Linked DNA regions of Homo sapiens. The protein of the gene in region 1 purifies or fractionates together with the protein of each later gene. This does not show direct contact. Each region holds a gene or a part of one and is shown in the gene's direction. Other genes may lie near its edges.

Region 1 (4,881 bases):
GCAAGGAGGAGCAAATCACGTCTTACATGGATGGCAGCAGGCAAAGAGAGCTTGTGCAGGCAAACTGCCTTTTTTTTTTTTTTTGAGATGGAGTCTTGCTCTGTCGCCCAGGCTGGAGTGCAGTGGCATGATCTCAGCTCACTGCAAGCTCTGCCTCCCAGGTTCATGCCATTCTGCTGCCTCAGCCTCCCCAGTAACTGGGACTACAGGTGTCAACCACCACACTTGGCTAATTTTTTGTATTTTTAGTAGAGACGGGGTTTCACCGTGTTAGCCAGGATGGTCTTGATCTCCTGACCTCATGATCCTCCCGCCTCAGCCTCCCAAAGTTCTAGGATTACAGGCATGAGCCACTGCACCCAGCCCAAACTCCCATTTTTAAAACCATCAAATCTCTTGAGATTCATTCACTATCATGAGAACAGCACAGGAAAGACCTGCCCCCATAATTCAGTCACCTCCCACCAGGTTCCTTCCACAACACATGGGAATTGCGGGAGTTAAAATTCAAGATGAGATTTGGGTGGGGACACAGAGCCAAACTATATCACACCCACAACTTCCCACATCTTTCAATGTATTCCCATATTCTCCACCCCCTCATCCCATTAACTTCACATCCCAGCCTCAAATGGCCTCCTCCTCTTCCCTACATTCCCCCTACAGATCCACATTGGCCTCTCCCATACTCACCCTATACATTTCAAGTGCACTTCTCAGTGACCCCAGGGGCTGTGCCTCTCATGGCCTTACCCTGTCCAGCTGGGTCTTCAGAGGCCGAGATCAGGCAGAAAGGGGCCATGCTTGTGCAGTGGCCACCTTCATCCATCTGATTGTGGCCTTGAGACCCCAGGGACAGAGGAAGACAGGAGAGCACTTGGACCCATTTGAGCCTCAGATGGAGTCCAGGCTGGTCCTCAGGCCCTCATGGGGTTCCTTGGGGACTGTGTTAGGCATGAGTCAGCAATTTAACTCTCCTCTCCAAAGGTAATCATTGGTAATAGTTTGGTATATATACCTTTTTTCTTCTTTATATTCATTTACAACATATAATGTGTATCATGTAATAACTTCTGGCATAAATTATTCAATTTTATGTGTATAATTATGTTCCTAGTTTTGTTTGCATAGTGGGATCAAAAGGAACTTTAGTTTTTTACTTATAAATACATCTTTATATATTTCCTCATTAGTAATATAGATCAAATTCTTATTTTTAATAGTTATGTAGTATTTTATAGTATGAATGAACTATGCATCATTAAATTAATCCCCTATTGATTATTTAAGTTGGCTATATAAGTTTTTTCTTTTCTTTTTTTTTTTTTTTTGAGATGGAGTCTTGCTCTCTTGCCCAGCCTGGAGTGCAGTGGCATGATCCTGGCTCACTGCAAACTCCACCTCCTGGGTGCAAGCGATTCTCCTGTCTCAGCCTCCTGAGTAGCTGGGATTACAGGTGACAGCCACCACACCCAGCTAATTTTTGTAATTTTAGTAGGGACAAGGTTTTGCCATGTTGGCCAGGCTGGTCTCGAACTCCTGACCTCAGTTGATCTGCCTGCCTCGGCCTCCCAAAGTGCTGGGATTACAGGCCTGAGCCACTGCGCCTGGCCAAGTTTTTTCAATTAAATGTTATTAGAAATGACTGGCTTTTTATAAACCTTACAGCAATGGGCCAGTATTTCTGGCATCTTGCCTTTGAAGTCAGGGCTTTGGCCATTTCTGGCAGAAAAGAATGGGCAGCGCTTTTGTCTTTCCCTTGGAGGGGGCTCACTTGTTAGGAGCCATCTGGTGCCTGAGTCACAGGTGCCCTTATGACATCACAGGCCTTTCTTCCTCCACCCTTCCTGCCTATGCTATGGCTGGATGAACACAGATGTGAGGGGATTTGAACCATCTACAATCAATCCATATGTGACCAATGGTAAGAGAAAGCCAGACACACCAGGCTTGTTAGGGATGTCCCCATAGATCTCTCAGGGTGAAGGGACCCCCTGACACTGAAGACTCTAAGAAGCCCTGGAAGCTGGGGATGTGTGCCATATTGAATGGAGAGGGAGGGACCGCAGCCTCACTCTTGCCTTTCCCCTAATGCTGATTGCAGGAGGAGAAGCAGCCCCAAAAGACGAAGGAACCCTCAAAAGAAGATGAGCCTCAGCAGAAGGAGATGCCAACCCATTTGTCCTTAGGAGCAGAGTCAAAGGCAGAGGTAGGAGGAGCCCTGACTTGGATGTCATTGATCCCATGTCCTAGTGCTAGTAGCTAGTGTCTTTTGCATGGTGCTGTTATAAGTGAAGTTTCTGTGCCGCAAAAGAAATAGCACTCAAATATAAAATTTTCTTTTTAATTCTCAGCAAGGCAAGGTACTTCTATAGAAGGGTGCGCCCTTACAGATGGAGCAATGGTGAGTGCACACTTGGACAAGGGAGGGGAAGGGGTTCTTATCCCTGATGCACGTGGCCCCTGCTGCTGTGTCATTCCCCTATTGGCTAGGGTTAGACCACACAGGCTAAACTAATTCTGATTGGCTAATTTAAAGAGAGTGATGGGGTGAGTGGTTTGGTGGGAAAAATGGTTACCGCGGAGCAGGAAATCGGAATGAGTCAGGGTGGAGACTGAGCAGGTAATTGGAATGAGTCAGGGTGGAGCCGGTAATCGGAATGAGTCAGGGGGGAGTAGGTAATCAGAATGAGTCAGGGCGGAGCAGGTAATTGAAAAAGGTTGCTTTACAAGGAAGTTAAGTTTAAAAGTAGAAGGCAAAGAATTGAACATATTGACATACTGATTCTTTGAAGAGAAATTTAGAACTCATACCTAACAACTTCTCCTCTTGCATTTCCTTACAGCTCTTTCTCTTTAAACTTCTTTAACATGTCTTGGCTTAGATGTTCTGCTTGATTTTCCAAAAGAAGAAGCTTCTCTGGATAAGGTGGAGAATAGTTAAGGGAGGTTTTAGTAAGTGCTGTTTTTATGAGCCTCTTTGCACCAACCCACGGACGCATGGTGTGACACAGCACCCAACAAGAATAAATACACCCATTGCGGCTGCCAGGGAAGTGAGAATTGAGGCTATAATTCTTTTCCATTTACTGAACCACTTTTCTAGCCATCCTGTAAAGGGCTCATTTAACCCTGAGTTGTTGGCTAACTCATTGGACAGGGCAGTCAGACCTTGCAATGCCTTTGTTATACTTCCATCAGGGGCAGTGTTGTTTGGGATGAAGGTACAACATTGAGTTTTAATCATGAGGCAAACTCCTCCTCTTTCTGCTATTATCATGTCTAAGCCTATCCTATTTTCCCAAGCCATCCGGCTAGTAGCCCCTAATTGCTCAGCTATTCCTTTAACACCATCTCTAGTGTAGTTAATAAATCGCTGTTGGTTGTAGCATATGTAGTTTATTCAATCTATATTTTTATTAATTGTCTCTCAACAAAATATTGACTCAAATCCTGCAGCTATTTGATTTTAGGCTTTAAATTGATCTGGTATTCCCTGCTAGACTCCAATTGCATTTAAATAGATGTGAGAGTCAAAAGACCCATAAGGGGCTTCTCTCACTTTACGATGTCTTATTTTTCCTTCCTCTGGTTGATGAAATGCCAGGGTGAAAGGGATAGCCAATTGGACTAAAACACAAGTGCCACTTCAGATATTCATCAGAGCGTCCAGTAAAGGTCCACCACAATACCACCACACATCCCCTCGGGGATGAACAAGGGCTGACTGATTGATAAGCTCTTGAAAATTCTTAAGCTCACTGCATCCGTTCAGGTCTCCAAGGAATGCTAAGTTTCCTCCCTGTCGTGAGAGACATGAAGTGAACTTAGTATTGGGAGATGGAAGCTGGATGACCCTCGGGGGCCGACCCACAGGGTGCCAGACTTCAGAATATAGCAGAGAGAAAGAGCATGGCACGACTTGTTACTCCAGGCTGTAGAATCCTGGAAAAGAGCTACCATGCAGCCCACAACCAGTCAACTGGAGGACCACCCTAGTGGAAAGGGGACATTCTGGGCCCCTGGCCTGCTGGGTGCACAAGCATAACAATTGCTTTTGTTTAATGTGCGGACGGAATATTTGATCCATTCCAACCAGACATTTGCATCTTGGTATCCTGTCTTAATTGCCAAAGTTTGTTTTAAGTCTTTCGCTTCTACGATAGCTATCTTGGTCTTGTTGTTAGATGGAGGAGGAGCAATTGTTCCATGTGAGAGGTTTTGGAAGAAGGCTTAGAGGAAGGTGCAGGCGGTGGGGGTTCAAAGAAATGCATTTCAAAGAATCCAATAGGGTCTGTCCCTGAAACCTCAGCCCCCATACCATAACACTGGCTTAAAGAAGGGAACTGGCTTAGAAAAGGGAAAGAACTTTGAGGATTCAAGGTAATAACCTGTATAGGATTGCACTGGTTTAGCTGACAGTTAGTGGGAGGCGGGGGCTGTCCCTCTAGTAAGATGAATGTATGGTTTTAGGAAATTACAAAAACCGGTTGGGGCAGTCCATCCTTGCTCTTTAGTGGTCCACAGAACCCTGGACCAACTATGGTATAAAAGCTCTACATCGCGGGGCAAGACTCCTGGTTGACACTGGGGTCTTTATCAAAATCTCCCAGGATTAAATGGTCCCAATTCACTAATACCCAGTCTGAGGAGAGTCAGGAGGGACAGAGGTACTTTTCTGAAGTAGAGAGCTGTCTTTGACTTGGCAAGTCCCCACAGGGTATAACAAGGCAAGCATCAAATGCAATAGTTTGAAGTGAAATTGACTTGGTTATGTTAATAACTAGATGGTCAGCAATAGAGCGAGGAAAGAAGAAAGAGTAATAGAATAGATGAAAGAGAGTTAAATTCTTCTTAGCTTTAGTTTGATAGGGTTTTCCC
Region 2 (4,232 bases), on another chromosome or scaffold:
AAGAATGGTCTCAGAACTGTTTGTTTCAATTGGCCATTTAAGTTTAGTAGTGAAAGACTGGTTAATGATAACAATGCATCGTAAAACCTTCAGAAGGAAAGGAGAATGTTTTGTGGACCACTTTGGTTTTCTTTTTTGCATGTGGTAGTTTTAAGTTATTAGTTTTTAAAATCAGTACTTTTTAATGGAAACAACTTGACCAAAAATTTGTCACAGAATTTTGAGACCTGTTAAAAAAGTTTAATGAGAAAAAAAAAATGGGAAAATGAAAAAGCATCATAAAATACCATGATTTTGTGGGCTTTATTTTGTTAAAATAACTACTCGTCTTGTCACTATTGTAAAAACATATTTCAAGGAAAAGCAGCTAAGTAATAAAGGCCAAAATTTATTATTAATGAAATTTTTCATTTTAACTAATTTTCAGAGAGAAGAGAAAACTTACTCAGTAAATAACCTTCCTCCAGATAGACCGGGAAGTCCATTCACTGTCGGTTCTCTAATTAAACAGGCAACAAGGTAAGTTCTTCCCATTCAATTGAATCAAATGTTATGTGTCTAAACATCTTGGCACATTTTCTTGTGATTAAGGATAAGATTAAGAATTGGCAGGTACAATGGAAATATATGCCTTCGGTAAAATTTGTCAACTTTTTTGGTGTCATAATTTATAAAATAAGGTAATTTTTGTGTCATTTATTAAGATTACTTCTGGCTTTGTAATTTAAATATGGAGAAATATCCATATATGGTGAGCAAGTGCTGAGAGGAAGTAAGTGCCCTTTCTTTGCATAAGTGTGGCATCATTATTGTTCCTTGAAATCAAGTTGGAGATTTGATGTTACATTTAAAATTTTTATACTTCTTTATTATCTTCAGAGTAATAGATTTCTGAAAATATACTAATGATAAAGCATAGATTGGTTCTTTGGTTCATATGTTTTTAAAATTCTCTCAATCTATGATACCCAGAAGAATGCAAGTGGACTGTTGTTTCTTTTTATAAATTTATGTACAAGCAATTTCCAAAATAGATTTGAAGAAGCATATTCTGTAATTTGATTTCCTAGGGATAGTTGATTCACATCCCTACCATTTTTAGCCTATGTGAAACTTTCCAGGCAGTGTGAATCTATCACCTCTTAAAAAAGGAGTTCCTGAAAATTCTGTCCATGGAATCATTTCATTGCTAAAAATTAAAGGAATAGCCTTAAGTAGGTAAGATTAGCACAAAGGGAAGCAACAGTATTTCCCTTCTAGGGGCTTAAGGATTTCTGGAGAAAAAAAGAGTTCCCAACACATTTCAGTGAAAATGATTTACTGATCATCTAAAATGTTGTATGGCAGTGAAAATGGGTTGCTAGAATTGGAAAATGTCATTTGCAAATGTTTAAGTAGTATTTTTTGTGTTCACAGAATTCTTCAACATTGTGTGAAGATGAGACTTTCTTTAAGCCATAACTATCGTATATGCTGCTGGAAAATGGTATGTTAAAATTATTTTAAAAGCAAGATATTTTTAAATTGTTTTATTGTTTATATCCATACTTCTGAGTTCAAACAGTTTTCCTCTAAGTCATGTGAGAAATTCTTGTAACATTAATGTTGGTTTATTCAGAAAAATACCTACCTAGTAGACAAACACTGAAAGTTCAGGCTTTTATGTTATAGTTTTATTGTATATGGTTCTTATTTTTCATGAAGAGGAAAGGATAGGGGAACTGATTGGATTTGAAGTATGTAAAATCATTAGTCATTATAAACCATGATATTATAGTGTTCTATATTTTCATAACCGTAAAAATAAATTCCTTAATGCTGATTTGGAGGAAGTGATTCTCAGACTTTGATTTCTGTATCTATATTCATTTAATTACAAACCTGTAAGCTCCTAATTTTTGTCTATAATGGATGTAAAGTTCAGAGCAGAACAGTGACTTTACAAATATATTATAACTGAATCTGCTTGAAAAAAAGACTGTTTTGGGTATCCACTTCTGGAAAAATTAAAATATAAGGATTTTATAATATTTGACTTCTGAATAAGTATCCAAAATTGCCCTAGAGTCATTAATATTCATTTAAATCTTGTTCTTAGATAACTCTATTTCCTGCTATTTTTATTTACTTGGTTTTAGGTACCTGGGATAAATGATAGCAATATACTGCCTTTGGTTTTGAAAGAGTCACTCATACCCAGTGTGGGAAGATTTCTTGCCTACTCTGATGACAAAGTACATGCTATCTTTTTAGATGGCATTACTCTAACCCTAAATTGGAATTTCAGCTCTCCTATTGAGAAGAGACAGGTGGGTATACTTCAGACTTAGATCTATTTTTTATTGGTAATCTGTGGAAAACAGAACAAAGAAAACAAAGTACCACACTATTTCAGTTCATTTTTTGAAGTATAAAATCTGTCAAGAAGCTTTACTGATCTCTTTGGATTTCCTAGCAAAAATCAGAATGATTTGACAAATAGTCACTTTTCTAAAGATAACTGATTATAGAGAAAGGGATTAGTATTTTCATTTGCTTTGATAATTACCTATATGAGTGGTGGTTAAATAACACCCATATCTCATGTAAACAACATTTAAACTGTTGCATCTTTAATGATTCCTCTACTTATTTCTTTAAGTTAATGAAGTTAGAATAGGTTGTTTATGTTCTTTTTTTCAGTTCTAAAATGATAAAACTTATCTTTCTACTTCTTCAGGTAAATCAAGGTCTTAACTTAGGTTGGTGTAAGTTAACTTTTCCTGATGGACAAGAGCAGTTAATTCAGATTGAACACCCTGAACCATATGAAAGGTACTGAAAAGCAATTTTAAAAATTATTTTTATGTTTTACTTTTAACTAACAGAGAATAAGCAATAAGCATTATTTAAGTGTTATATATATTTTTAGTTTTTCCATGTGGATAATAATGAAGGCATTTCAGTCGTTTCAGAGTTGATAGCTGTACTTGTGTTTAGCATAACTAAATAGATCAAGTCAGCTTTTTTTTTTTTTTTTTTTTTGAGACAGAGTTTTGCTCCTGTGGCCTGGGCCGGAGTACAATGGCACGATCTCGGCTCACCACAACCTCCGCCTCCTGGGTTCAAGCGATTCTCCTGCCTCAGCCTCCTGAGTAGCTGGGATTACAGGCATGTGCCACCATGCCCGGCTAATTTTTGTATTTTTAGTAGAGATGGGGTTTCTCCATGTTGGTCAGGCTTGTCTTGAACTCCCGACCTCAGGTGATCTGCCCACCTTGGCCTCCCAAAGTGCTGAGATTACAGGCATGAGCCACCATGCCCGGCCTTCAGGTCAGCTTTAATCATTTCATTTGTATTCAAGTAACTTTTCAAAATGAAATGTGTTATAGACATACTGATTTGCTGTGGAGGTTGGATATGGTCAGCTGTGTTAACAATTAACTAATCCTCTAGCCAATTTGAAATAAGATTTGCAACCACAAATAACTGAAATTCTGTATATTTCTATAAAGTGGATAAAATTACGCAATGATTATCTTAAAATGGGGAAGAGTCTTCAGCTTTTTATGAATTTTTTTTCTTTTGGTTTATCTAATTTATTACAGTAAATCTTGTGATAGTCTTCACATTTTAGTGATTTCACTTGAGAATATTCACAAAATAATAGCTTTTTGTTACCTCTTGAATGTATTTTTCTGTTGGGTTTTATTGTGTTTCAGTCTAAGTGCTCATTCATTGCTATTAATGATTTGCCTCAAAAAAGATAGTTTCTTTAGCAAACATTTCTATTGATTCAGCCAATCATTTCAGATCATTCATTTTATTAAACTTGATACTTGTTTTAGATATGTAGTAAGTTACATATAATTACACATATGCATACAAGCATATGTGTATATGCATTAGCAGGTGTTTTTTGGTTTAAATTTTAGTAAGCAAATGCTCAGTCAGTCTTATTTTGTGTGAATATTTTTTGATAAAACTTAAACGCATTTTACTTTGAAAAACTAAAAGAATTAGAACATTTAAAATTGAACTTTAAATGAAATCCAAATATCGCCTTTATTTTGATTCTTAAATGTCACTTGTATTAATCACAAATATAAGTAAATCATTTTATTCTTGATGAATAATGGAAAAAATTTGGCTTTTCTATGACCAGTGAAAAATATTTTGAGAATTGCCCAGTAAATGCTTCACTTTAACATTTTTTCTTTATCCTTTTTTCCCAAATTGTCTTATTTTTACAT
Region 3 (4,232 bases), on another chromosome or scaffold:
AGTATGCCTTTCTGTTTGGTTCAGTAAACCAATATCATTCAGGCCCCCCAACCTTATAATTTCTTTTTTTTTTTTTTTTTTGAGACAGAGTTTCACACTGTTGCCCAGGCTGGAGTGTGGCGCGATCTCAGCTCACAGCAAGCTCCGCCTCCCGAGTTTACACCATTCTTCTGCCTCAGCCTCCCAAGTAGCTGGGACTACAGGCACCCGCCACCACGTCCGGCTAATTTATAATTTCTTATGGAAGATATATTTGAACAAAATATATCTAAGAATAAATTGAAATAATCCCCTGCCTCTTTCCCACCAATATTTTTCCCCTTTCCTGAAGCTACCATTTTTATGGTCTACTTTTGATGCTTCTAAAATATAAGAAGTAGCTTGGGGCCAAGGGGACAGCAGGATAAAAAGACCCCAGTTATTTATTTAAGACTGTTACCACATGAGTATGTGAATATATTTAAGAGCACAAAACATATCAACTAGCATTATGTGAATTAGGATGCTTTTGGCTGCAATAAGCAGAAAAGCCATCCCAGAGTCACTAAACAATTTTTAAAAAAATAAAAAGGAATCACTCCATGTCCCAAGTCCCAAGGGACGCATCTGTAGCCCCTTAATAATAAGAGGCTCATCTTTCCCTTCACCGTCCTCAGCATGTGGGTTATCCTCAGCTAGCATGTCTCACAGTCATAAGATGGCTGTGCCAATTCTGGACATCCCATGCCAAAGAAATGATTACTGTTCAGCAGAAGCTAATTAACTTTATTTTATGTTGTGTCTCTTGTACTTAACAGTAAGGAAACGTGTCCCATGAACTCTCTAGTAGACTCCCCAATATCTTGCTGGAGAGACTTAGGTCATATAAATACCTCTCTAAACCAGTCTTTAAGCAGGAGGATGGTCTTATTGTGAATGGCTCCAGCTAGTAGTTTCAACCTTCACTACACATTAGAATCACTTGGAGGAGGACTTAAGCTCCCTTGATGCTTACAATGTGCAGCCACAGTTAGCCTACATCAGGGTTTCTCAACCTCAGCACTATTGATATTTTGGCTCAGATCATTGTTTTAGGGGCTGTCTTGCACATTGTGGAATGTTTAGCAGCATCCTTGGCCTCTACCCACTAGACGCCAGTAGCACCTCTCCAATTGTGACAGTCAAAAATGTATACAGGCATTGCCAAATGTTCCTTGGGGGTTAAGGTTGCCCCAGGTTGCCCCACTCTCTTAAACTAATTAGCGTTTACCCTTAGGTCTCACATGGGAGAGGTGGACATCCAATTAAATTAGTACTCTGCCAGCAGGGAAGGAAGAAATGGATGCTAGTAGGTAACCAACAGTGTCTGCTGCATGGAGTAAGGCTGTTTTCAGTTTAGAATCTTTGAAACTAACATGAGGTAGCTTCTGTATGTTTACTATTCTCAGGTGTATCATCTTTGTAACACTGGCAATTGGAGATGTTCCTGATCACCTGTGGCACCTATAACCCTTTACCAGCTTTCCAGCACTTGGTGACAGTTTGTCTCAATTGTCCATAAATTGACACTTGGATTAGCCTGGTCTGTCCCAACAAGATTATCAGCTCCTTGACAGCAGGGATATGCCCTCTCTTCATGGTGTATTCCTCATGTCATGTTAGAGATGCAGTAGGTATTTAGCAGTTATATTGGTTCACTGTGTATTCATTGAGTGTTTATTATGTATAAGGCAGTTTAATTAAATTTCAGTGCGTTGAAATACTCATATCTGTGTATTCACAGCTGCCAATGTCTGGTTAGTTCAAGGAAAAGTTACAAGGACTTCATCAAGTTCTACTTTACTAAAGAGGAAGAAGTGAGCAAGACCTTGGGGTGGGGAGAAGGCCCCTACGTTGATCAAACTTTCAGGCCCTTTAGAGGTGATCCTTTTGACACATAAACGACAGACACACACTCTCTCTTTTATACAGCTTGATTCAGGTGAGCATACATGTCCATAAAAGCATAATATTTTTTAAAAGTTAGATCAGAATATATCTTTTCCTGTCCTGTTAGGTAATTGTTGATGAACAGCACTTGGATTTCCTGTTGGCATATACTATTTCGGCTATTCATCAGTGTAGTTCCTGGACACACAGGGAAATTCTTCAAGCCCTGGCAGCTCTGGTGTACTGCAATGGCTCCAAATGTCAAAAGGTAGTTTAAAGTGCTTTATCCTTCCTTTGAAAGGCCAGGAGCACAGACTCTGGTGCCAACACTGTGTTCAGGTTTCTATCTTGCCACTAATCTCTAGCAATTCTTATTCAACCACTCTGGGCCTTGTTTCCTCATGTATAAAATAGTTACTCTGAGGATGAAGTGAGACAATACGTGTCAAGTTCATGGCCCTCGGTAAATAGTAAACATTATTCTTAATATTATCATTACCCATCAGCCATACGGCCACACTAAAGAGCATCAGCAGCTACCTAGGCTGGGAGTAATGATCATTATTGATGCTTTTTGGCATATCTTTGCATATCCATCGGAGACATTTATCTAACAGCTAGTCTTTTGGTGCTTAACTGCCATTTAGTTAAAAAAAGAAAGAAGAAATCTGTCTAAAACATAATATTTTCCTAGAAGCTTTTCTTTGACCTACATTGACTCTTATTTTTCTTAGTACCTCCCAGAGCTGCTAGGCAACACCGGACTCTTAATGAAGTTGAGTGACTTGGCTCAGTCTGATCCTGAAGTCAGGAGAGCTGCAGTACATTGTATGGCAAACTTATGTCTCAGGTATGTGGCTCCAGTCAAGTTTCTCAATGGTAATAAGATAGTGCCTCTATTGGGCCCTTTGTAGGTAGTTCCCTGTGCCTGAAGCCAGAGCCAACTTAGACAAATAACTAACTTTGCATTTCCCATGTACTTTACTAATAAAATCATCTTATGTTGTTTGTTAATTTTAGTATTGCTTGTAAAGAAGGAAAAAATAGACTAGGACCATATTCCTAAAATGTGGTAATAGTGACATAATGTGCAGTATGTCAAAATTTTGTTTTCTATTGATATAAATTCTAAGCATATTAAGTTTTTAGAAGGATATATTCATGCAAATTTTAAGTGCTGGTGAGATGTATCTGTAAAGGGCAATTTCTTTTCTTTGAAGAAGATGGAAACAGCCCCAGCTGCTCACCCTCGATTCTCACAGTAGGCAGTAGACAATGAGCAGCACAAATGTGAACTCGTCTCTGCATAGCACAGTGCTGTCCAGCGAGTAGGAAGGCAGGTACAGATGTGTGATTCTAGCTTGACAGGACCTGTCTGGATTATTTCCCTCCTAGGACTGAACAGCAGAACTAAAACAAGATTTTTCTTTCTCCATAGTTCTTCTACCACAAACTTCTGTAACCTTTCTGTATGGAAACCACCCTTCCTCTATATTCATTCTAGCCCTGTGCCTGTCCCCCAGCAGTAACTAATTAACCAAAATAATAATTTTCCATAGCATAGTTGCACTCAAGGGTATATTCCAACTCTAATAGTCTATATTACTGCTATTTTTAATTAGTCTTTTGCAAGCCTCATTTTAAAGGAGACTGAGTTTGAGTTGTTTTCTCTGTATGCGTTTAGTGTGCCAGGACAGCCGTATTTGGAGGAGCCCTACCAAAATGTCTGTTTCCAAGCTTTTCTGACTATTTTACAGTCTCCAAAATCATCTGATATGGATGATATCACATTTTGCATGGTAAGTGGACTATCATTGACGTAGTGAATGTTGCGGATGTGTCTAGAAGCAGATTGGAAAAGTGTTACTAACGAGTTTAATTTGCACCATTAGCTTCGTCTAGAGAAATACACATATATGAAATGTTTGTAACCTAAAAAGACTAAAATCATACCATTTCGGTTTAAATTATAAGAAGCTTTTTATTTGTTATATTTTGCAATTCTAGATTTTTAGAGGAAACTATTCTTTTTCCTTCTGAGTATAAAAGCAATAGTTGCAGGCTAGTGACTATCTTTAAGATGAAAGTAAAGAGAGATTTCACCAAATATATCTGCAATATTTTATTTCTTTTTTAAAAATACGATGCAAACGACAGTTTATTAACATCTTTTAAATTTAGAGTAACACATTTCAAATGTTATATAGCTGAGATAAAGTTCCTTCTAGTCTCCTGCTCGGATATAGCCACTGAAGACAATTTGTGCTGTGTGCCCTCAGATTTTTTTTTCTATATGTAAATGAGCATAATTACAGCTTTAAGTG
Region 4 (4,232 bases), on another chromosome or scaffold:
GTGCCTTCAGCTGCCGTTTGCTGAGCGAGCCTCTGTGTTTCAGGTTGCTGGAGACCGTTCTCGGCTATATCAGTGCAGTTGCACAGTCCATGGAAAGGAACGCAGACAAACTCACCGTGAAGTTCTGGCGCGCGCTCCTTAGTAAAGCTTACGACCTGTTAGATAAGGTAGGTGTTCATTTCTCCCTGGAATTACTGTTTTGTTGCTGTTTTTTAAATTATTGTGAAATTATGTAAAGTTTTTAAGAATAAACTTAGCAATTCCTTTTATGAATATAATGAAGCTCAGATTTTTCTTAGAAAACAATCTCTTGATGACTAGAAATAGATTTGTCTGGAAAAAATTGTTTCCTTACCAGTTATGAGAACATGTACCTCGTATATTTTAATAATTAAGTCATATAATATATACTGTTCTACTTTATTCAAGTGGAATAAAATAAAAGTATGAAGTATATTACATACATATCACTGGCCTCGAAGTTAGGATTGCTGATTCAAATCTAGCTCAGTCATTTAGCTGCATGCCTTTGGCACTTCCTCCTGACATCAGGCTTTTGTTTTGTTCGATAATGTGTGGTTGGTAATGCCTACCTGAAAGGTTATTTTAAGAATTAAATAAGAAAATGTGTGTGGAAGTGCCTGGTGCCTGGAGGTGTGCAGTGGACAGCAGTCTGTCTTAATTGAAGTTGGTTTTTTTTTTAATTTGTTTTTCTTTTCATGTTAAATATAAAATTTCTCTTTAGGTCAATGCCTTGCTGCCCACAGAGACATTCATTCCTGTGATCAGAGGGCTGGTGGGCAATCCCCTGCCATCTGTTCGCCGCAAAGCGCTGGACCTTTTGAATAACAAGCTGCAGCAAAATATATCCTGGAAGAAGACAATAGTGAGTGAAGACCCAGGACACACCCATTTACTGTACTTTGCTTTATCAAAGAGCTGCATTTAACTCCCTTCAATTTCTCTAGTGGTACAATTTCAAATTGAAGTATATTATTTTCTGAATATAATACCATGACATGTTTTAAAATGTGACGTTAATTCTAACGGGAATATATGTGTGTTGTAAGAGCTCTTAGAATGGAATTTCAGCCTAGTGGAATTCTTGCTTACTACAGAGCTTACGTGGCCTTAGCCTTAGCATAGTTCTAAGTCCCTTTTACTCCAGATCAGTGGGTGCTTTGTATAAGTGAAACACTGGCTAGAACATGCACATCGCTTAGCATGACTGTGTGACTCAGGACCCCCGAGTCTGATTTCCATTTAGACAATCTCAAGCTGTGACAATGGGAAAATGGACAAACATTTTTTGCAGCTTTAATGATTTGGGGATTCTGGCTGTCCCCTTCAGGTTACCCGTTTCCTAAAACTGGTTCCAGACCTTTTGGCCATTGTGCAGCGTAAGAAAAAGGAAGGGGAAGAAGAACAAGCAATCAACAGACAGACAGCGTTGTATACCTTAAAGCTTTTATGCAAGAATTTTGGTGCAGAAAATCCAGATCCTTTTGTCCCAGTGCTGAACACTGCTGTGAAACTGATTGCTCCAGAGAGAAAGGAGGAGAAGAATGTCCTGGGAAGCGCGCTGCTGTGCATAGCAGAGGTGACCTCCACCCTGGAGGCGCTGGCCATCCCCCAGCTTCCCAGGTATGCGGCCGGAGACTTGGAACAGGAGCTGTTACCGCCTGGCACACATTGAAAAATAACACTTTGGTGACTTTTTTTTTTTTTCCTCTGAGTAGACGTTGCATAAAATTGGAATTTGTTAAAGAATTGATCTTGCAGGGTGTGGTGGCTCACGGCTGTGATCCCACCACTTTGGGAGGCCAAGGCAGGGAGATCGTTTGAGCCCAGGAGTTTGAGGCTGCAGTGAGCTATGACTGCACCACTGCACTGTAGCCTGGGCAACAGAGTGAGACCCTGTCTCTTAAAGAAATAATAATAAAAATAATTAATCTTCAAACAGAAAGATGCAGCCTTCCCGTTTATCTTCAGATGCACTACTTTGCAGTGTTAATCGTCCTCCATTCTTCCTTCCTTTTGTCTAGTATAGTCAAAAAGCAGTGGGTGAAGGTTCTTGGCAGAGGGGCCCACCCAGTTAGGCAAGGCCAAAGCTGCCTTCTGCTGCCAAATTTGGAAGTTAGAAGCTCCTGGCTGTGGTAGTTCCTTACTGTACAGCCAGTATGTTCCTTAACCTGTTAGAGCTTTGCTGTCTATAAAACAGAGACAGTATCTACCTCATAGGATTTCTGTAGGGCAGTGCTTGCAAGGAGTTTTGCATAGTGCCTGACACATAGTAAGTGTTCAGTTAATGAAAGACATTGTTATTTTTTAAATTACTGTTGTGTCCGTACTGTTAGCACTGGGAGATTTCTTGTGCTTAGCCACATAAAATGTATAGACACTGCTTTTTAGGCTATGAAGCAGATAGCGATGTAATAGGCACAGTTTGCTGGTTTTTTTCATAATGCCCTCTACTCCATTCCCTAGCCTCTGTTTCTGCTTCAAGTTCTTCTAAAGCTCTTACTTTGTTTCTAGCCTGATGCCATCGTTGCTGACAACAATGAAGAACACCAGCGAGCTGGTCTCCAGCGAGGTCTACCTGCTCAGTGCCTTGGCTGCTCTGCAGAAGGTTGTGGAGACTCTCCCGCACTTCATCAGCCCCTATCTGGAAGGCATTCTCTCCCAGGTGAGCCACGATAGCCACGACATGCTACGCAGGGTGGCTGGGGAAGGTAAAAGATCACAAATGTAGTGATTTTGTTTTTTCTTTAAGGGTTAGTTTCCGTTTGACAGAAAGGAGTCTTATTTCTGAAGAGATGTGCTTGCTTTTATTAAATGTGTACTTTTTCTCTTCCATCATCCTTGCCACTTAATCTTGAAATTGATATGGGGGTCACTTTTTAGCGAGATGCTTCTCTTCTTTAATTGTGCGGAATGTATTCTGGCTTTTTTTTCTTCTGTGAGATCTTTGGAGTTGGGCTGGTAGAGCCGCCTTTTATTACTTGTGGAAATTGATGGGCCCTGTTTCTACTGTGAGAGGTATAATCCTAAGGCATCTTGCAAAGCAGAATTTTTGTATTGCACGTCAGCGGTTTCCTGTCAACACGCTAGGGGCCAGTGGTATTTATGATTGAAGATGCTCAAGAATGTTGAGACCTGGCTGTTCCATTGTGTTGATCATTTGCCATTTACAAGGTTAGGAGCCTTCATTACCATGGGGCAAATGATTAAACCGCTTCACTTACACCACAGCCAGGGTTTAAAAGTAGCCTTCTCAGAGAAAGGGGCCTGTGCTCTGAGGAGCTTTCTCAGTTTTTTAGCAACTTGACTCTTGCCGTGGTCCCTTGCATTCCTGTCCTCTAAGAAAATCATCTGTCTGGGTGCTGTGTGTGCGTCTGCGTCTACCATCGGCCTTCGTCCCTGATCGCAAGTTGGGCAAGAGGTGTCTGCCCAGTTTTATCCACTGACGTTTAGGGCTGACTTTAAAAGGAATTCTGTGTGTAGTTAAAAAGTGCTAAGCATTTTCCAAACACTAGTACCTCATCATGAAGCCTCTCTGTAAGTGTGTGTTTGTCAGCGAAGATCTGCAGTGGCCCTGATCACTTTTTTTATATTCCTGTAGGTGATTCATCTGGAGAAAATCACTAGTGAAATGGGTTCTGCGTCACAGGCTAATATCCGTCTCACATCTCTTAAAAAGACACTGGCTACCACACTTGCACCCCGAGTCCTGTTGCCCGCCATCAAAAAAACTTACAAGCAGATTGAGAAGAACTGGAAGGTTAGATCTTATTGGGTATTAAGACTTTGGAGAAGGGAGAGGTGGTACTGCAATGTGTAAACTTTGACTTAAAGAAGAAGATTTAGTTTTTAAAAATACACACCGCTGAACTCTAGGAATCATTTGAAAATGGCACATCTCTTTCCTGTGTTATTGGTAGAATCACATGGGTCCGTTTATGAGCATCTTGCAAGAGCATATTGGGGTGATGAAGAAGGAAGAGCTCACCTCCCATCAGTCTCAGCTAACCGCCTTTTTCCTGGAAGCCCTGGACTTCCGAGCCCAGCACTCTGAGGTAAGCTCAGGTTCACTCCTCCAAATCCTAAAGCTGTTATCCACCTATTGAAGAGTCCGAGAACAATCTAGCCGTGTAACAGTGGTACTTGCCAAAATAATTTACAGTCAGGTATCAGCACTCTAATAAATGGGCTCTTCTGTTTTCAGAACGATC
Region 5 (3,715 bases), on another chromosome or scaffold:
TAAGCATTATTAGCCAGGTGTGGCCCCATGCTTGTAGTCCCAGCTACATCGGAGGCTGAGGCAGGAAGATCCCTCCAGGCCGTGAGTTTGGGGCAGCAATGAACTGTGATTGCATCACTGTGCTCTAGACCAAGTGACAGAGCAAGACTCAGTCTCTAAACCCCCCTCCCCCACCACTCAAAAAAAAAAAAAAGCATTATTTGCTCTTTTCTGCTTCCCTCTCATCCTTGTTTCCAGAAGGGACTGGGTCATTGCTGAGGGGAGGAGAGGAAGCTCAGATGGCAGCAAGCTGAAGGGAAGCCGACTCTGAGTCAGGCCCAAGTCTGCGGCCTGCCATGCTGCGTGCTGTGGGGAGCTGAGAGCGCATGGGCACCTAAGCACCCAGATTAGGCTGCGGCTACAGAAGATCTGACTCTGTCTGGCCTGGCCTGCGGAGGGACTGTGGCCTCAGAGGAGGATGCTGGCCCAGTGTGGGAGCTGCTGCAGGGTGGCGGGGCCCGTCTGCTCATGGAAGACAGAATCCTTGCCCCTTGACCAGTCAGTGGGGACTAGAATTATGGCAGTTTGTACCACAAGAGATGCGTGGTGGCTATTGTCTGCTTTGTGCCTTTTTCACGAGTCACTGCTGGGCTGAGGTGGCCAATCATCACCCACCACGTGTTCCTGACTGCGCTCCTCCTTGGCTCAGGGCAACCCTGACTCCATCTTTGTTGAGTCAAGTGTGACAAGCTGACAGAGTTCCAAGCATGACACCGCTGTAACCCTCACCACCACCAGGCAAGAATGAGCAAAGATCTCATTCTCTGAGGAAGAACTCCCCGGAAACTCAAAAGGAGGGCCGTCCTATCCCTGCAGGGTATGGGGAGAATTTTCTGGTATTAGCATAGAAAGGGAGCTGGAGGTACCTCTGGAAGAGCGGGGGTCCACGGCATCTCAGACACAGGAGTCTCTGCTTGTTCAGGGTGACAGATGGTGAAACAGAAATGACCTAATGGATCTCTAGACACCCGGTTGCATCTTTTCTCCAGGAATCCAGTTTCCCATTGCAGGGTATTTGACTACACTTGATAAGAGGCCAGGGAAGGACCAGGATTGAGGCTGGGTGTTCTGTTGGCTGAACCCTTGTCTGGAGTCACCCTAAAAGTGATGGCAGGGGAGTTCCTGCAAGGGACTGCCCCAAACCTTTCCAGGATGAGAGCCAGTTGGGATTCCAAAGGAAGAAACACTTAATGCCAGGGTGGTCAGTCCAAAGCATTTGTTAGGGAGCTTACATACAGAGGGGGCTGCAGTGTACCCTCACGAGGGACAGCCAGGAAAGAGGTTGTGCCTAGGCACACCGCACTGAGGGGGTGGGGTGTGGAGTTTCTATGAGGGTGCAAGGAATTTGGCTGGGGTGGGACCAGTTTCCACGTGCTTAGCAACATGTCAGATCTTTCAGTGTTCCAGGCAACAACCTAAACGTGTATCAGTGTCTGGTAACATGCAAGCCCCAGCCAGGGTTTGAGCCTGCAGGGGGAACATGTAGCTGATTAGGTCAGAGTAGTCAAGGCACTTCCTCAGTCAGGACAAAGGAAACACTGGGGGGATGAAATGGGGGACCCAACACTGAGTCAGGCAGGGGACACATGCCCTGTTTAGAGCCCACAGGCCAGACCCTGCCAGGCCAGAGCAGGGGAGAGCCCTGGCCAAGGCACTCCACATGGGGGTCTGTGACCCCACGGGCAAGCCTGCTACCCGGGCACGTTTGTACCTTGGAGGGTCCTCTCAGTCTTGCCGATGCTGTCAACACCCTGAGCCCAGGGAAATCCATCCCATTAAAATAAAGGTCTGGCCCAAGTGTGGTTGCAGATTTTTCTTGGCTATCTTAAAGAGTAAAGTAAGCAAATTACAAATCAAAGAAACTCTGAACCAGTGGTCTTCATCCAAGAGAGCCTCTGGTGGTCAGAAGGAAAGTCTCAAGCATTCAGACTGTGGCAGGAACCCTGTCATGGAATCTGGCAGCTAAACCCGAAAGCAAGAGGCTTGACCACTGCAGAACACTCGGGTAGGTAGGAAACAATGAAAGAGCTTCCAAAATCAAAATCAGAAACCCAATTCCAGGACTTGGTGACTGCAGTACTTCCTGCCTGTCACCATCTAGGGCAGCTCAGATGTGCAGTCCAGCATGAACACACCTTGAGGATGAGGCAGCGCATCCCTGCTGCTGCCGCCGCTGATGGCACCATCAGGGCAGACTAGGTTTGCTGACCAGGCTAGGTGTGGACCAGCACACCTACCTTTCCCTAAATGGGCCCGTGGCATGTGTCCTTTCAAAATGTTCCCTTGGCAGTGTGCTCCTTGCATGGCTTTGCTCCTAGGACACATCCAAAAGGGTCCCCTGCACACTGCGAAGGGCTTCTGGGGCGTGACCTGTCTTTAGTGGTTCTGAGTCTCAGGACTTGGGGCTGATGCAGGGCCTCTAGCTGAAGGGACTTTGATGGAAATGTGCAGACACAAATGTTGCCCAAGGACCACGAGTACAGCAGGTGCTGCAGTTACGGGGCACGCCCATTCCTAATCATTGTGCTTTGTGTCTCCTCAGGGAGAAACAAAGGCAGCGCTGCCCTCGGGGGAGCATTGGCCCTGGCGGAACGCAGCAGCCGCGAAGGATCCAGCCAGAGGATGCCACGCCAGCCCAGCGCTACCAGGCTGCCCAAGGGGGGCGGGCCTGGGAAGAGCCCTACACGGGGCAGCACCTAGGATGGGGCAGAGACTTGTTGCATCTTTGTCCCCAGCAAAGGCTACATGTTACCTCCTTCAATTGATAATAAACCTTTCTGAGATGCAGAGGGTCCAGGTCAGATGTTGTCTACCGTTTTTTTTTTTTGTTTTTTTTTTTATATTAAGGCACACTTAGAATGAAGTTTCTGTGCCGGTCCTGGTTGTGCCACAGTGAACTAACCAGGTCCCTTCACCATGGGTCAACTTCCTGAACCTGATTTGGGTTCTGAGAAAAGGCATCTGGATTGCCAGGTCTTTTATAAATAGACGTCAACAAGCTTCACTTGAAGTGAAATGTGGGAGGTTTTTTTGGTTTTTTTGAAATGGAGTCTTGCTCTGTCACCCAAGCTGGAGTGCAGTGGTGCGATCTCGGCTCACTACAAGCTCCGCCTCCTGGGTTCACGCCATTCTCCTGCCTCAGCCTCCCAAGTAGCTGGGCCTACAGGTGCCCATCACCACGCCCGGCTAATTTTGTTGTATTTTTAGTAGAGACGGGGTTTCACTGTGTTAGCTAGGTTGGTCTCGATCTCCCACCTCATGGGAGGTTTTCTACCAAGGCAGTTGACAGTGCTGAGGGACAGGGTGGCTGTGTGTGCGCACAGAGGGCGAACGCTGCCTTCCAGGTTACCGTGGAGCACTGGGGTCAGCATGGGTGTGTTGTGACCTTCTGTGGGTCACGAATGCTGTGTGGAACTCGGTTAATATTCTTTCCCCCTCTAAAATGTCCTGACCTTACATATTTGACCCACAGCTTTAGAGACTTCATGGACAAGCCCCATCCACAGACCTCCAACACTTCATGCTCCCTTTTAGCCAGCATGACCCATCAATAAAGAAGCCCGAAAAATCACAAATTCAGTTGAAAACCCTGACTCAGCTTTCCTAGAATTTAGGAAATCTATACATTGAACGCCTGGCTTTGAAGAAACACTATTTTCCCCTGGTCAGGTTACTT
Region 6 (4,232 bases), on another chromosome or scaffold:
GGCAGTGTTTGTGCTGGACTCAGTTGGCATCAGGGAGCCCTGGGGGCAAACGGCCCAGGATGGCACAGCTGGGGGACTGCTTTAGGAGGTCGAGCCTCAGACCTCCCATGAGGCGTGTCCCTGGGCAGCTGGTGCCGGTGGGGATTGAAGACAGAGACCACAGGCCTCATCCTGGCCCGGGCTCTCGGCCGCCGGCGGCTCGGTGCTTTATTTATCTTTAGCACTACCTCCTGTAGAAAGGAGGTTTTGAAGATGAGAGGAGACGTGGTTATGAAAAGCGTATTCTGAGTGGTAGATCACTTTATAGTATTATTCTCAGCAAAACAGAGAGATGGCTGCATCCAGCCATTTGTGGTAAATGTCCCAGGCTGTCCCTCCATGCTGGCAGCCCACTTGTCCCCCAGCTTGTCTCGGCATCAGGAAATTTATTCCAAGTCTCTGTCCCGGGCGCAGTTAAGGTAGATCACAATGCCTCTGTCCACATGTGTGTGGATATGTATTTACTTATTATTTATTATTTATTTATTTATTTATTTTTTTTTGAGACAGAGTCTCGCTGTGTTCCCCAGGCTGGAATGCAGTGGCACGATCTCGGCTCACTTCAGCCTCCGCCTCCCGGGTTCACATGATTCTCCTGCCTTAGCCTCCCAAGCAGCTGGGATTACAGGCATGCACCACCACGCCTGGCTAATTTGTGTATTTCTAGTAGAGACAGGGTTTCACTGTATTGGCCAGGCTGGTCTCGATTTCCTGACCTCAGGTGATCCACCTGCCTCAGCCTCCCAAAGTGGTGGGATTACAGGTGCTAGCCACTGCACCTGGCCGTTTGTGGATATTTAAAAACACAGTCCTAAAAAACTGTTGGGACAGAGAAGAATCAGAATGAAAATGAGAAAACCTCCGATCCAACAGTGGCAAACACGACGATAGGAAAGGTGTGTGCTGGCCCTGGTGCTCCTCAGAGGATGTGGGAGGGTCAGGCACTCGTCTGGAGGAAGGTTGTGAGCCGAGCACCCATGGAAAGAGGGAGGAAAAGTGGGAAGAAGGGCATGCTGGAGACTGGAGCTGGGGTGGGTGCGGAGAGAGGGCCACTGTGCTGCGGTCCACAGTGAGAAAGAAGCCGCCAGACGGAGCCACGATTCAGTGGAAAGTAAAGCTGCAGGTGGCCTGGCTTGCTGGGAAATGTCTGTAGCCTTTGGGGTAGTCGTGTGGGACACAGCGGAGCCAGGACTGGAGTGGCTGGTGGGCTAGTGCTGAGGCCTGTGGGGCAGCCTGTTGTATTAAGGGGACCATCTGGTGGGGTGCTTGTCCGCTGTGGGAACTTTGCTGAGGGTGGATCGCTGGTCCCTGGCAGGGCCGACCCTGAGAGCTCTGGGTTCCTCGTGGTCTTCCCGGTGTCCCGAGGCTTTGGGGTGACCCTGCCCTGGCCCCGTTCTGACCGTACCGCCTGCCCCGGCCAGTGCTGCCCACGGTGCTGCTGGATGAGATCGAGGCGGCCGAGCTGGAGGGCAACGATGACAGGATCGAGGGCGTGCTGTGCGGGGCCGTGAAGCAGCTGAAGGTCACCCGCGCCAAGCCTGACAGCACCCTCTACCTGAGCCTCATGTACCTGGCCAAGATCAAGCCCAACATCTTCGCCACTGAGGGCGTCATTGAGGTTTGAGCCGGGCCCCTGGCAGGAGGCGAGCAGCGCTGGGGCCCTTGGCTCCCCTCCTCACCTCCCCCTTAAGTGTCCCTCCCGGCCCACCCCAGCTTTGCCTCTGGGGCCAGCGAAGCTCCCACGTGACATGCGCCCTCCCTGGCAGGCTCTGTGTAGCCTCCTGCGGCGGGACGCCTCCATCAACTTCAAGGCCAAGGGGAACAGCCTGGTGTCTGTGCTGGCCTGTAACCTCCTCATGGCCGCCTACGAGGAGGACGAGAACTGGCCCGAGATCTTTGTCAAGGTGAGCGTCCTCTCCCGGGACGGTGAAGATGGCAGAGCGCCACGGGGTGGGGCAGGGGCGAGAGAAAAGCAGAAGTGTGTTCTCTCCAGAGGGCTGTGTCTGACAGCCCTGGTGGTGATGGCACGGTCCCTGCTGCACCCAGAAGCTGGAGAGGGCCGCCTGGGCACCCAGTCCCCGGGCAGCAGGCGGGTGTTCCCCAACCTGGCTGCTGCCCGGCTGGGCTCGGGGCTGAGGGTGTGGCTGCCACACAGGTGTACATCGAGGACTCCCTGGGGGAGCGGATCTGGGTGGACAGCCCTCACTGTAAGACGTTTGTGGACAACATCCAGACGGCCTTCAACACCAGAATGCCCCCCAGGAGCGTGCTGCTGCAGGGGGAGGCGGGCCGCGTTGCGGGCGACCTGGGTGCAGGTGAGACACACGGCCAGCCAGAGAGGGCGGGTGTCCAAGCCCCAGGGCAGGGGAGGGGTGGGAGGATGGGCGGGTGGGAGGCGCTGCATGGAGCCCTCTCCTTGGTTTGCAGGGAGCAGCCCACACCCCTCCCTCACGGAGGAGGAGGACAGCCAGACGGAGTTGCTGATCGCGGAGGAGAAGCTGAGCCCCGAGCAGGAGGGCCAGCTCATGCCCAGGTAGCTGCGTGCCTGCCCGGTCCCAGTTGGGGGCGGCGGGGGCGGGCGCCTCGGGGCCACCTTCCTCCCTCCTCGCTCCCTCCTCTGGCCTAGGTACGAAGAGCTCGCGGAGAGCGTGGAGGAGTATGTCCTGGACATGCTGCGGGACCAGCTGAACCGGCGCCAGCCCATCGACAACGTCTCCAGGAACCTCCTGCGGCTCCTCACCTCCACCTGCGGCTATAAGGAGGTGCGGCTGCTGGCGGTGCAGAAGCTGGAGATGTGGCTGCAGAACCCCAAGGTGCGGGGGCGCCCCGGGGGGGTGGGCGGGGCAGGGGGTGGGGGCAGGCTCTGTGTGGCCCCACAGCGTGGTCTTCCTGCCGGGGTGGCCGTGAGCCCACTGCTCCCTCCTCGGCCCCGCAGCTGACCCGGCCGGCCCAGGACCTGCTGATGTCCGTCTGCATGAACTGCAACACGCACGGTTCCGAAGACATGGACGTCATCTCACACCTGATCAAGATCCGCCTCAAGCCCAAGGTCCTCCTCAACCACTTCATGCTGTGCATCAGGTGCGTGGCGAGCCGGGGCAGAGCGGGGGTGCGGGTGGAGTGGGGGTGTGGGTGGGGGTGTGGGCGGAGCGGGGGTGCGGGCGGAGTGGGGGCACAGGCGGAGTGGGGGCACAGGCGTAGCGGGGACAGGGTCTGTACCCTCACCTCACCCAGGGAGCTGCTGAGCGCGCACAAGGACAACCTGGGCACCACCATCAAGTTGGTGATCTTCAATGAGCTCTCCAGCGCCCGGAACCCGAACAACATGCAGGTCCTCTATACCGCACTGCAGCACAGCTCAGAGCTGGCGCCCAAGGTAGGCCCAGGGTCCCTGGCCTTGCCCTCCACGCCGGAATATGGGGCTCTGGGCTGGAGGGGCACGTGGCGTCTGGGGAGGCCGGTGGATTGGCAGTGCTTCGTGGGAGAATGCTCCTCGGTCTCGGGAAGGAGCTTTTGAAACTCACGTGGGCATGAGGTTGAGCCGTTTCTAGAGTGGGTGCAGCCACAGCGCCCAGCGTCTTTCTCAGAAACTGACACTCTGTCCATTTAGGAGGGAGCCACATTGAGTCTTAAAAGCCACCCAGGTTTCTGAGCTAAGACCCAGACCTGTTGCCTTCTGTTTTTATTTTTCAAGCTCATTCCTGCCTTTGGATAGTAAGGTAGTTTTTAAAAATTTTGTGGAGACCGGGTCTTATTATGTGGCCCAGGCTGGTCTCAAACTCCTGGGCTCAAGCGATCCTCCTGCCTCAACCTCCCAAAGTGCTGGGATGACAGGCATGAGCCCCTGTGCCTGGCCCAGACCCGCCTCCTGTGCATTGGGTCCCTCGGTTAAGCAGGGGTCCCTGTAGCCCTGGCTGTAGGACCCTTGGATTTCCGTGTCTCCTTTGAAGCGGGCTCGGGAGATGCTCCCATCGCCACCAGCGCATTAGGCCTCCCGGTGGGCTCTATGGAGTGTGAAACACGAGGGAGGCACAGCCGCTCTCAGCTCCGCGTTCAGTCTTCGCGGCCTGGCATTTTGAGACAGGAGTGCGTCCTTTCAGATCCTTTCAGATCTTGGGTGGTGGCCTTTGGTTTCCGTTCAGCCCGTGGCGCACGGGTGGGCTGAGATGGCACACGCGCTTCTATGGCTTTGC
Region 7 (3,102 bases), on another chromosome or scaffold:
TTTAACCCACATAAAAATCCTGTGAAATTGCATTTTCCCTGTCCTTTATGGTTTTGGAACCTGAGACTCAGATAAATGAAGTTGTCCCAAGTCACAGTGGATGCATTGGCGCTAGATTAAACTCCAGATCTTTCTGATCATATTCTCCCTCTTCCCCCTTTAAAATTCGAATTGGCCATCCTGTGGTGGATACTTTACTAGCTGTCTCACTTTGGGCAAATCACTTCACCTCTCTGAGCCTGTTTCCTTGTCTGTAATTGGTGATAATAATGTCTACCGTAAAGGGATGGTGTGGGCATTAAGTGGTTTATGCATTTAAAGTGCCTAGCATATTGCCTGGTACATAGTATATTTAAATGCTTACTTATTCATTAATTTATTAATCAAATAATGTATTAAATGCTTGCTGTGTGTCAGGCACAGTTCTCCGCACTAGGGGGATAGCAGTGAACAGGACAAACAGTGTCCAAGCCCTCCTAGAGTTTAACATTCTAGTGGAGGGAGACAGATAATGAGTAAATTGTTAGTTGTTATTGCTGTCATTTTGGTATCTTCACAGTGTAAGTGGCTAAGAAATTTTGATTGACCTTGCTCCTGTCACTTACTGTGTAGCAGTAGCTTAAACTCAGAGTGACCTTCATATACATCTTGTATCACATCACCTCTTTAGAGGTTACTGAATCTGGCATCCTTAAGAGTTGTTTTTGGGAATACCCTGAAAGCAGAGATGGTCCTTTATTCGTCCTGAATCTCTGACACCCAGCACAGTGCCTGGCACAAAGATGCTCAGGAAATGATTGTTGATTTTATTCCTTTTCTCTTATTTTTGAAACAGCAGTAACAGGATTGGTTTCCCAAGTGCAGTGGGTTGGACGCTCTGAGTTGGAAGGCAGAGGAGAACTAGGGATTGTTAGAGGAAGACAGCAGCAGAAAGAACCGTGCTCACTTAATTATGAGCATGAAAAAGGCAAAAAGTAGAACAGACTGGGTGCGGTGGCTCACACCCGTAATCCCAGCACTTTGGGAGGCCGAGGCAGGAGGATCGCTTGAGCTCAGGAGCTCAACACCAGCCTGGGCAACATTGGGAGACCCTGTCTCTGCAAAATAAAAAAATTAGACAGGTGTGGTGGTGCATGCCTATGGCCTCAGCAACTTGGGGGCCTGAGGTGGGAGGATCACTTGAGCCTGGGAGGTTGAGGCTGCAGTGAGCCATGATTGCACTACTGCACTCCAGTCTGGGTATAACAGTGAGACCCCATCTCAAAAAAAAAAAAAAATGTAGAATGGCATTTGGCACCAGTTAACAGTCTTCCTGTTGAAGCAAAGGCAACTCCCCCTGCTTTGTTTTTTTAATAACATACAATGCAGAGCATTGGTTCGTAAAGATGTGGTAATATTAATAATAACACCTACCAGTTCTCAAACCACTGCCATGTGCTAGGTGATAGGTTAGGTACTTTATACCTGAACCCTTTGGATCATAGCTCTGTGTTGTCAGGAAGAGATTGAATGATGTTCAGTCTGTGGTATGTAAATTGACTAGTACCTTTTATATTTTCACTAAAAAGTCTTAACATGAAAAGGAGTATAGGTTTTGGTTAACTGGAACAAGAATGTATGTGGCACCCCCATTCTGCAGTGATGGAAGAGGCAGAGGCATGGCTCCATTCCTGTTGATGTACACAGCTTTGAAATCTGATTCTCAGTAGTCACCTTCCTGTCCAATTTCCATATTCTCTTGACACGAAAAAAATAGAATCTTTTTCTTTTTTTTGCCTGTAAGTTTGATTGAGCATGTCAGTGTTCAATGGCCAATTAATTTAATTTTTTTTTTTTATTTAGGGAGCTAAAAAAGTTCATTTGGGTGAAGATTTAAAGAGTATTCTTTCAGAAGCTCCAGGAAAATGCGTGCCTTATGCTGTTATAGAAGGTATGTTTGCTTATTGGTCAATGGAAAACAACGTCTTTTTCCCAAAAGATTGATAAAGATCATCTTGGCTAATATGAAGAGCCTTTTGTGGTGTTGGGTCCATGGTCCAGAACATACTTTGGGGTCAGAAAGACATGGGTTATTGCTTTGTGATCGCTAAGATTACCAAACCTCCCTGAACCACTGTTGCCTGATCTCGAAAATAATACTTACCTTTATGGGGTTGTTATAAGACAAATTATGTGATCCATGCAAAGTGCTTAGGAGAGTGCTTCTAAAATGTGACTTATGGTGATCAGAATGTCATTGTTTTGATGAATTAGCAAAAGTCAACTGAAAACACTTAATTTTTAACATTTTTTAAATTAAAAAAAAAATTTTTTTTTGAGGCCAGGTGTGGTAGCTCATGCCTGTAATCCCAGCACTTTGGGAGGCTGAGATGGGCTGATCACTTGAGCTCAGGAGTTTGAGACCAGCCTGGTCGACATGATGAAACCCCGTCTCTACTAAAAATACAAAAATTAGCTGGATGTGGTGGCACATACCCGTAATCCCAGCTACTCGGGGGGCTGAGGCAGGAGAATTGCTTGAACCCGGGAGGCGGAGGTTGCAGTGAGCCAAGATTGCACCACTGTACTCCAGCCTGGGTAACAGAGTGAGACTCCGTCTCAAATAGAGTCTTGGCTCTGTCACCCAGGTAGCTGTAGTATGGTGGTGTGATCATAGCTCACTGCAGCCTCAAACTCCTGAGCTCAAGTGATTCTCCTGCCTCAGCCTCCCAAGTATCTGGGACTACAGGCACATGCCACCACACCCTGCTAACTTTTTAATTTTTTGTAAAGATGGAATCTCACTGTGTTAACCAGGCTGGTCTCAAACTCGTGGCCCCAAGTGATCCTTCTGACTTGGCTTCCCAAAGTGTTGGGATTATAGGTGTGACCTACTGTGCCAGACCAGAAAACACATTTTAAATTATCTGAAAGGAGAGGGCAGAAAACTTCTTCAGAAATAATAGAATTTGTGTCCACTTAGGAGCTGTGCGGTCTGTTAAAGAAACGCTTAACAGCCAGTTTGTGGAAAACTGCAAGGGGGTAATTCAGCGGCTGACACTTCAGGAGCACAAGATGGTGTGGAATCGAACCACCCACCTTTGGTATGTATCACTTCTCCAC

Evidence for each region.
Region 2: the proteins of IQCF1 (region 1) and C5orf34 purify together in Homo sapiens (affinity purification with mass spectrometry; one large-scale study listed by BioGRID and IntAct). This does not show direct contact.
Region 3: the proteins of IQCF1 (region 1) and HEATR6 purify together in Homo sapiens (affinity purification with mass spectrometry; one large-scale study listed by BioGRID and IntAct). This does not show direct contact.
Region 4: the proteins of IQCF1 (region 1) and HEATR1 purify together in Homo sapiens (affinity purification with mass spectrometry, with the first as the bait; one large-scale study listed by BioGRID). This does not show direct contact.
Region 5: the proteins of IQCF1 (region 1) and MZT2B purify together in Homo sapiens (affinity purification with mass spectrometry; 2 studies listed by BioGRID and IntAct, with this or other methods). This does not show direct contact.
Region 6: the proteins of IQCF1 (region 1) and INTS1 purify together in Homo sapiens (affinity purification with mass spectrometry; 2 studies listed by BioGRID and IntAct, with this or other methods). This does not show direct contact.
Region 7: the proteins of IQCF1 (region 1) and MUL1 purify together in Homo sapiens (affinity purification with mass spectrometry; 2 studies listed by BioGRID and IntAct, with this or other methods). This does not show direct contact.

The regions. Positions count from the first base shown.
Region 1 is NC_000003.12:51,900,313-51,905,193, reverse strand, and holds the start of IQCF1 (IQ domain-containing protein F1), read left to right. Parts: upstream 1-1,840; 5' UTR 1,841-1,921; coding exon 1,922-1,924; intron 1,925-2,104; coding exon 2,105-2,209; intron 2,210-2,369; exon of another isoform or gene 2,370-2,401; coding exon of another isoform or gene 2,402-2,404; intron 2,405-4,881. UniProt on the Homo sapiens protein: Involved in sperm capacitation and acrosome reaction.
Region 2 is NC_000005.10:43,490,797-43,495,028, reverse strand, and holds part of C5orf34 (uncharacterized protein C5orf34), read left to right. Parts: exon of another isoform or gene 1-151; intron 152-427; coding exon 428-519; intron 520-1,416; coding exon 1,417-1,486; intron 1,487-2,138; coding exon 2,139-2,309; intron 2,310-2,719; coding exon 2,720-2,814; intron 2,815-4,232.
Region 3 is NC_000017.11:60,071,690-60,075,921, reverse strand, and holds part of HEATR6 (HEAT repeat-containing protein 6), read left to right. Parts: intron 1-2,035; coding exon 2,036-2,176; intron 2,177-2,642; coding exon 2,643-2,758; intron 2,759-3,592; coding exon 3,593-3,707; intron 3,708-4,232. UniProt on the Homo sapiens protein: Amplification-dependent oncogene.
Region 4 is NC_000001.11:236,555,649-236,559,880, reverse strand, and holds part of HEATR1 (HEAT repeat-containing protein 1), read left to right. Parts: intron 1-43; coding exon 44-167; intron 168-745; coding exon 746-886; intron 887-1,351; coding exon 1,352-1,644; intron 1,645-2,535; coding exon 2,536-2,686; intron 2,687-3,622; coding exon 3,623-3,781; intron 3,782-3,941; coding exon 3,942-4,076; intron 4,077-4,225; coding exon 4,226-4,232. UniProt on the Homo sapiens protein: Ribosome biogenesis factor; required for recruitment of Myc to nucleoli. Involved in nucleolar processing of pre-18S ribosomal RNA. Required for optimal pre-ribosomal RNA transcription by RNA polymerase I.
Region 5 is NC_000002.12:130,187,888-130,191,602, forward strand, and holds the end of MZT2B (mitotic-spindle organizing protein 2B), read left to right. Parts: intron 1-619; coding exon of another isoform or gene 620-699; exon of another isoform or gene 700-1,837; intron 1,838-2,581; coding exon 2,582-2,739; coding exon of another isoform or gene 2,740-2,804; 3' UTR 2,805-2,840; downstream 2,841-3,715. UniProt on the Homo sapiens protein: Required for the recruitment and the assembly of the gamma-tubulin ring complex (gTuRC) at the centrosome.
Region 6 is NC_000007.14:1,497,595-1,501,826, reverse strand, and holds part of INTS1 (integrator complex subunit 1), read left to right. Parts: intron 1-1,460; coding exon 1,461-1,657; intron 1,658-1,805; coding exon 1,806-1,943; intron 1,944-2,194; coding exon 2,195-2,354; intron 2,355-2,466; coding exon 2,467-2,572; intron 2,573-2,665; coding exon 2,666-2,852; intron 2,853-2,974; coding exon 2,975-3,120; intron 3,121-3,273; coding exon 3,274-3,415; intron 3,416-4,232. UniProt on the Homo sapiens protein: Component of the integrator complex, a multiprotein complex that terminates RNA polymerase II (Pol II) transcription in the promoter-proximal region of genes.
Region 7 is NC_000001.11:20,502,050-20,505,151, reverse strand, and holds part of MUL1 (mitochondrial ubiquitin ligase activator of NFKB 1), read left to right. Parts: intron 1-1,842; coding exon 1,843-1,930; intron 1,931-2,962; coding exon 2,963-3,083; intron 3,084-3,102. UniProt on the Homo sapiens protein: Exhibits weak E3 ubiquitin-protein ligase activity. E3 ubiquitin ligases accept ubiquitin from an E2 ubiquitin-conjugating enzyme in the form of a thioester and then directly transfer the ubiquitin to targeted substrates.